Homo sapiens: one gene and its partner. The protein of the gene in region 1 purifies or fractionates together with the protein of each later gene. This does not show direct contact. Each region holds a gene or a part of one and is shown in the gene's direction. Other genes may lie near its edges.

Evidence for each region. The genes of interacting proteins can lie anywhere in the genome.
Region 2: the proteins of SYNPR (region 1) and COL13A1 purify together in Homo sapiens (affinity purification with mass spectrometry; one large-scale study listed by BioGRID and IntAct). This does not show direct contact.

What each region holds. Positions count from the first base shown.
Region 1 is NC_000003.12:63,613,808-63,617,307, forward strand, and holds the end of SYNPR (synaptoporin), read left to right. Parts: exon of another isoform or gene 1-1,367; intron 1,368-1,416; coding exon 1,417-1,674; 3' UTR 1,675-3,117; downstream 3,118-3,500. UniProt on the Homo sapiens protein: Intrinsic membrane protein of small synaptic vesicles. Probable vesicular channel protein.
Region 2 is NC_000010.11:69,920,406-69,923,905, forward strand, and holds part of COL13A1 (collagen alpha-1(XIII) chain), read left to right. Parts: intron 1-1,476; coding exon 1,477-1,530; intron 1,531-2,302; coding exon 2,303-2,389; intron 2,390-3,396; coding exon 3,397-3,450; intron 3,451-3,500.

The sequences.
Region 1 (3,500 bases):
CAAGAAACAAAACAAAAACAAAAATGAAGTCTACAGACTAAATGCCTTGTCCCAGGTAGCAGGGCAAGAAAGTACAGTCCCCAGGGTGCCTTTGATTTCAAAGCCTATAGAGATTTCTCCAAGCCTAAGATTCCATTCATGTGCTGCTAAAATATTGAAATATTTTGATAGTCTCAGATCCAAGTCTCCAAGGCCCAGCTTCTTGACTACACCAGTGCCCCCTCTGCCACCACTACCCACAGGCCACTGTGGATCATCTCACTGTCCAGAAACTAAGGGATAGATATTGACCCAGCAAAGGACTTCCAGCACCCTACTCCAGGACCGTGGCCACTGCCCAAGTCCATTTTGATTGGTCAGCGTCACGCTAGGGGGTGATGACTAAATATACTTTAATGTTATCACAGCTTTGCGTTATACTACTGTTACCTGTCTCCATTAGGGGGCTGTTAAAACAGACTGCCTGTAGTTAATTCCCAAGTCAATCAACCAGCCTTGGAAAAGGCTGCAGAACAAGTCATGGAATGAGGACTTCTGTTCGGGCCTCATGCAATAGCAAACCGTTCTGCTTCCATCAAACCTGAGGCCCTGGGGAGGCGACACCCAGTCCTCTGGCTCACTGACACCCTCCTGGAGAGTAAGAGGAATTTCCATAGGAAAGTTTCACATCCAGTTCTTAAGAAAATATTTTATACTTCTCTGAAACCTGCACTTTATTCACAGTCTGGTTTCAACATTCACTTATCCCTGTGAGAGGCACAGAAAGTGCAATTATTCGAACAGTCAACCTCTCAATATGCTATCATGCATATGCTTATTTGCATATCACCTGTACCATTGCTTACCCTATATTTTTAATTGACTCACTTTCTTTATATGATTACAACAAATGGAAAAGCAAAAGCAGTATCTCTAACCATAAAGAGAAGATAGCCTTATAAATGAATGCACCATTATTAAAGTGAAAATTCTCAACCCTGTGCCATCTGGAAATAATCTTACACACCATGAAGGATACTTTATTTGGAGAATAAGTGATGCCTTAAGTAAGGTTTCCAGTTATGGAACCAGAAGAGAGTTTGGATCACAGATCTACTACTCAGCAAGCCACGCGACCTTAGACAAGCTTTCCACATCTTTAATGTGGGTATGACAATAGCAACTTTTTCCTAGACTGATTCTTAGAGCAAGTGAATTGATACACATAAAGCCCTTTATGTAGTGCCTGACATGTAGTGCGTCTAATAAAGGTCAAATATTCTAAATGAAATACCGGTTCCAAATGGAAAACTTGGAAGCGGACTCAACATTAAAGTGAAAAGTGATCTTTTGTATTGTGAAGGATTTTTCCAAAATTGAAATTTTTCTTGGGTTTTTGTCTAGTCTATCAATTCATTGGCTTTGATTCTCCTTCAGGTCTTTGGATTCTTGAACTTTATTCTCTGGGCTGGAAACATATGGTTTGTTTTCAAGGAGACCGGCTGGCATTCTTCGGGACAGAGATATCTTTCAGATCCAATGGAGAAGCACTCCAGCAGCTATAATCAAGGTGGTTACAACCAAGACAGCTATGGATCAAGCAGTGGGTACAGTCAGCAGGCGAGTTTGGGGCCAACCTCAGATGAGTTTGGCCAACAGCCTACTGGCCCCACTTCCTTTACCAATCAGATTTAACAGAGTAGCATTTGCATTCTTCTGCAGTCGCCTCACCATCTTCCATTTCAGTGGCAGAAGAATTTTTTAAGGGTTTCAATCAATTATTAATGCAGAGAGTATTGAATGTAAATCAGAGCTCTCTAGTCTTCATTAAGGCAGCAAGTCCTGGGTTGTGAAAAATGATACTTAGAGATGAGGCGACATGAGGAGATATATTATTCATCATAGATGGCTAATTGGAGAGTACCTTGTTATATATACAGATACTTTCATGGTCATTTTGTATGTATGTTAAAGTAGTAGAAGTATTTTGTAGCTTAAAGTCTCTAGTATGTAATATGCATAAAGTAAATCAAATAGCGTTGAGTTTTCTTATGCATTTTGATGTGAAAGATGTTATAATAATTTCTAGAAGACAATTTGGTGTATCACAACATGCATGTCTTATTTTTTTTTAGTTTTAAGTCCTATAGGACTATGAGTCTCTAAGTTATTTGTTTCAGAAAATTATTCTTTTTTTATGTGATAAATCATATGATTTAAGTGCATGAATAAGCATTTTCCCACACAATGAACATTTGAACTGTGTTTATGAAAATTTTCTGGTTTGCACCATGAATTTGTCAAATGGATATTTATAGGAATATATTCACTACTTTGTATACTTTGCAAATTTGTCTCTCTGGCTTTACCCAAGTTCTGAATGCATTGTAATTAAAATTTAAGTTTTTCTTTTCCCCCATTAGTAAACATTTAGTGCTACATATGATAACTGCCCAATATTTATTCTATTTACTTAGCTAAATATTTGCATTCTTGTAACCTTCTATGGTGTTTTGTGGCTCTTATCTTGTGGACCATAAATAACACGGCCCAATAACTCTTTGTGTTTATGGAGTGTTGTTTTCTTAGAATAATGGAGATGCAGATATAGATACCATAGTCAAGGTACCGCCTTGCTGAAGTATTTATTTATAAAGAATATTCTGTAGAACCTCTACTACCAGCTATATTTTTAAATCCTGTTTATTTGTAAAGCTAATATGCTCCTCAATGTAATTATTAAAAATTCTCAAGTCACAGCTAAACTTACTAATTCTGATTTTAGTGTAGCCCCTAAATTAAAAATGGCTTCCATATGCCACTCTGTACCCCAAAGAGAGTTCTCATGAAATATTCTCCAGAATGTATTCATTATCAAGAAAATGTCAATCGTCACTTCCTCGTTTTAACTCAGCTGAAACACCAGGACCCAATAGAGAGGGCAAGCTGAGCATCTGTATTTCCAGATAAAAGTTGTTATTGATGTATAAACTCGTTGCGTGATTAGTGATGTTGGAAGCATTTTAGCACAAAACAGCCTTGTGTCTTAGATGATATCTGTAACCAGTTTCTGAATCCCGTTGGATAAAACTGTATTGTGATATCTATTTGATGTTAATAAAGTTATTGCATACAGTGCTGGCTGGACAGTGAACAATTACAACAGTAGAACCTGGTTGGCTTTAACAATGACAAACAAGGGTTAAATGCACAGTGTCTCCAATCTGTCACCCTGTCCTTGTTTCATGAGCCCAGTGAGGTTTGTTCATTCATTCCACCATTCTATGCACCTGTCACTGTGCATGCCACTGGTAATGCAGTAGTAAAAAACAAAAACAGGCAGTATGTTAAGAAGCTTACACTCTATTAGGAGAGACAGGCATTAAAATAATCACACCCCAGTTAAGCTGAGTGCAACAAACAGAGGCACAGGATTCCACAGGTACATCTGTCAGAGAGGTTTGAACTAGTTAGGGAGAAGTCAAGAAGCTTCAGACCTCAAGACTACACATGGTTTAGCA
Region 2 (3,500 bases), on another chromosome or scaffold:
TATTGGACACTGCTGTGCACTGAATATGTCCATCCCAGACCCATATGTTGAAGCCCTCACCTCCAGTGTGGCTGTATTTAGATAGGGCCTTGGGGAGGTCATTAAGGTTAAATGAGACCATAAGGTCGAGGCCCTAATCCAATAGGATTGGTGGCCCTAGAAGAAGGGGAAGAAAGAGAGAGACCTTTGAGAGACCGTTCTCCCTCTCTGCCTTGTGAGAACACGGCAAGAAAGCTGTCATATTCAAGGCAGGAAGAGGGCTCTCACCAGAACCTGGCCATACTGGCACCCTGATCTCAGACTTCCAGCATCCAGAACTGTAAGAAAATACATTTCTGCTGTCAAAGCCACCCAGACTTTGTTATGGCCGCCTGAGCTGACCAATACAGCTGCTCTGTGAAAAGAAGGCAGAGCATCAGGGAGACGGGCTCGACCTGCCTCTGCCACTGACTCAGTAAGGGGTTGGCCACCAGTCACGTAACCTCTTGGGGCTTCCCTCACCAAATCTGTGAAATGAGAATGGGGTTCAGCATCTCTAAGGGGCTCTTTGATTCATGTCATGGGGGAAAAAGAGTTCTTCCGTAGTGGAAGAAGCTGGGTAGGGAAGTGTATTATTTTGCTAGGGCTGTGGTAACAAAGTACTACAGGCTGGGTGGCTTGAGCAGAAGAAATTCATTGTCCCACAGTTCTGGAAGCTGGAAGTCCAAAAGCAAGGTGTTAGCAGGGCGGGCTCCATCTGAGGGCCAAGGGGGAGAATCTGCTCCAAGCCTCTCTCCCGGCTTCTGGTGCTTGCTGGCAATCTTTGGCATTCCTTGGCTTATAGACGTATCACCCCAATCTCTGCCTCCATCTCCATATGGCATTTCCCTGTGTGCATGTCTGTGCCCAAATTTCTCCCTTTTATAAAAAGGACATCAGCACATTGGATAGGGGCTCACCCTACTCCCATGGGACTTCATCCTAACTCATTACATTTGCAATGACCCTATGTCCAAATAAGGTGAGCTGGTTATAGCTAGAGGCGGAGAAGGGGGTGCCAGAAAAGACTGGGAGCCCTTAGTTGCTAAGCATTAAGAATCTGAAGAACAGAGTGGTCAAAAGGAATTGCTTGCCCAACCACTGGCGTTCTGAACTGCTCACCTCTCCCAGGAGACCGCCAGGATGGACTAGATGCTTCTGGCCTTTGTTATGATCTGTGGCCAGTGTGACTTCTCCCCAGCATGAATGACAAGGGCCCGGGCCACATGGGAATAAGGAAAGCAGTCATGCAGGTGTCACCAACGCGAAGTGACCCATGGAAGTAGCCAGTCAGGATGGGGGCCGGGAGGAAGTGGAGCCCTTCAGAAAGCCAGCTGGGGGCAGGGGCACCGAGGCAGGAGCAAGGGAAGGCAAGGCCCTAAGCTGTGGAGCTGGTGGCTTCCCAAACCTGCTGCAGAAACAGTTCCTAACCCCCACACTGTCTGCATCTCCCTGCAGGGTGAGAAGGGGGCTGAAGGCTCCCCTGGGCTTCCTGGCCTCCTGGGGCAGAAGGTAGGTGTTGCTCTGAATGGAGGGTTCAAGTCCTTCGTCACCCACATCCCATACCTGGCCCTGCACATCCACACAGGCCCCAGCATTGGACGTGTCTGTCTCCCAGACTGCAGGAAAGGCAGCTGGAACACAGCCAGATTCTGTTTGTCGAGGGAGAGGTGCCATAGGCAGGCCCTGATTGGCAAAAATAAAATGCCGAAATGTAAAGAATTCGGTAGTGATGACCTGGTCAGATTTCTTGGTACCAGCTCTGCAAATGCATCCCACAGTTCATGAACTCTGTAAGATATTTAATTTAAAAATTAAAAAAAAAAAGATGAGGCCAAAATAAGGGGAGACATGCATAATAAGATGGGACCCTTGGAAAGTCACAGTGCTCCTCAGCCTGTTAGAGGCCTGAGCACCCTGCAGTGATGGGGTCTGCAAAGCTTATTTAATGTTTCATTTCTTACATAGTTTGGCCACCAATAATAATGTTATTCCACATTTTGAATATTCTCAACCCACTGAACAGTGTTCCGTGGAATACACTTTGAGAAACACGGCTCCAGACCCAGTTTTGAAGGATCCCTTGTGTCAGCTCTAAACCTGCTGCCCTTCAGTAAACACTTCCAATCTCTCTTCAAATCCCACAGCTGGATCAGATAAATCTGGGATTCTGAAGGCCCCTGGTCCCCAGACATCCTGGGGCCCACACCCCATAGTGTCCCTCCAGTGCTCAGCCTAGACCTTCCTCCACACCAGGGATGCTAACTCCACCTTCCACCCCCAGGGAGAGAAAGGCGATGCTGGCAACTCCATTGGAGGAGGCAGAGGGGAACCTGGCCCTCCAGGGCTCCCTGGGCCCCCAGGGCCAAAGGTGAGTGTTCCCTGGAATTGGTGTTGGGGAGGTGCTTACCTGGGGACTTTGTCTTCAGCCTGTTCTCGGGGACTCTACGTCCCGGACATCCCGCCTTCTCTAGCCTTCCCCTGCTCCAGATGTGTGGTTTTCCCCATGGATTCCAAAAAGGCCATTTGGACCCAGCTCCTGCTTGCAAGCAGATAACAGTTTGACCTTTCAGAGGAGATGTCTTCCCTGGGGCAGATGGATGGTCCCAGTGATTCAGATGACTCTGATGTAACTGAGTCAGGGCGCAATGGCTGCAGGACCTTCATGGCTATGCTGTAACTGAGTCAAGGATTGATGGCTGCAGGACCTTGATGGCCATGCTGTAACTGAGCAAGGGACCAATGGCTTCAGGGCCTTAGGACAGGCAAGAGGCCCCCCACCTTGGCTCTGAGTAGGTTGCAGGTCAACTATCAGCTGGCCCCACCTGGTACCAGCACATCTGGTAGGTGGCAGCAGTGGAGGCAGCTGCAAATGGAAACTGCCCTCACTTTCCTTTTGCTGCTTGAAAAGTGCAATGGTAAGATTTGGGTTCCCCAAAGCAGATGGCTCCTATGTTGCTTGGTTTACTTTAGCAGCACTGAGAAATGAAGGGGGTCTGTTTCTTAGCTCAGAAGGAAAGCATGAATTACTCTACATCATCTGGGGCAATACACTCATTCATTCCGCCCATATCCACCTGCCATGGGCTGGGCTCTGTGTGGGCCTAGGAGGGCCTGGCAGGGCAGAGTGGACACCAGTAAAGGGTACAGAATGCAGGGAAGGAAAGCAGGAGTGGGCTTCCAGAGGAAGCAAGACCCAGGCTGGGCCCAAGCATGGGTAGGAGTCAGGGAGGTGGAAGAGTGGGAGGTGCAGAAGCCATCAGGGAAAGAGAAGTCCAAGGCAACATCTAGGCATGAGCGGCAAGACCATCTTTTCCCTCATAAGCAGCTGTCCAGGTGCCCAGCATGCCCTCATCCCAACTCTCTCCTCTTCCCCAGGGAGAAGCAGGTGTCGATGGCCAGGTTGGCCCCCCAGGGCAGCCAGGAGACAAGGTACAGAGACCCCCACATCCCAGAGCTGCAAGATGAGGGTCAGCTTGGGA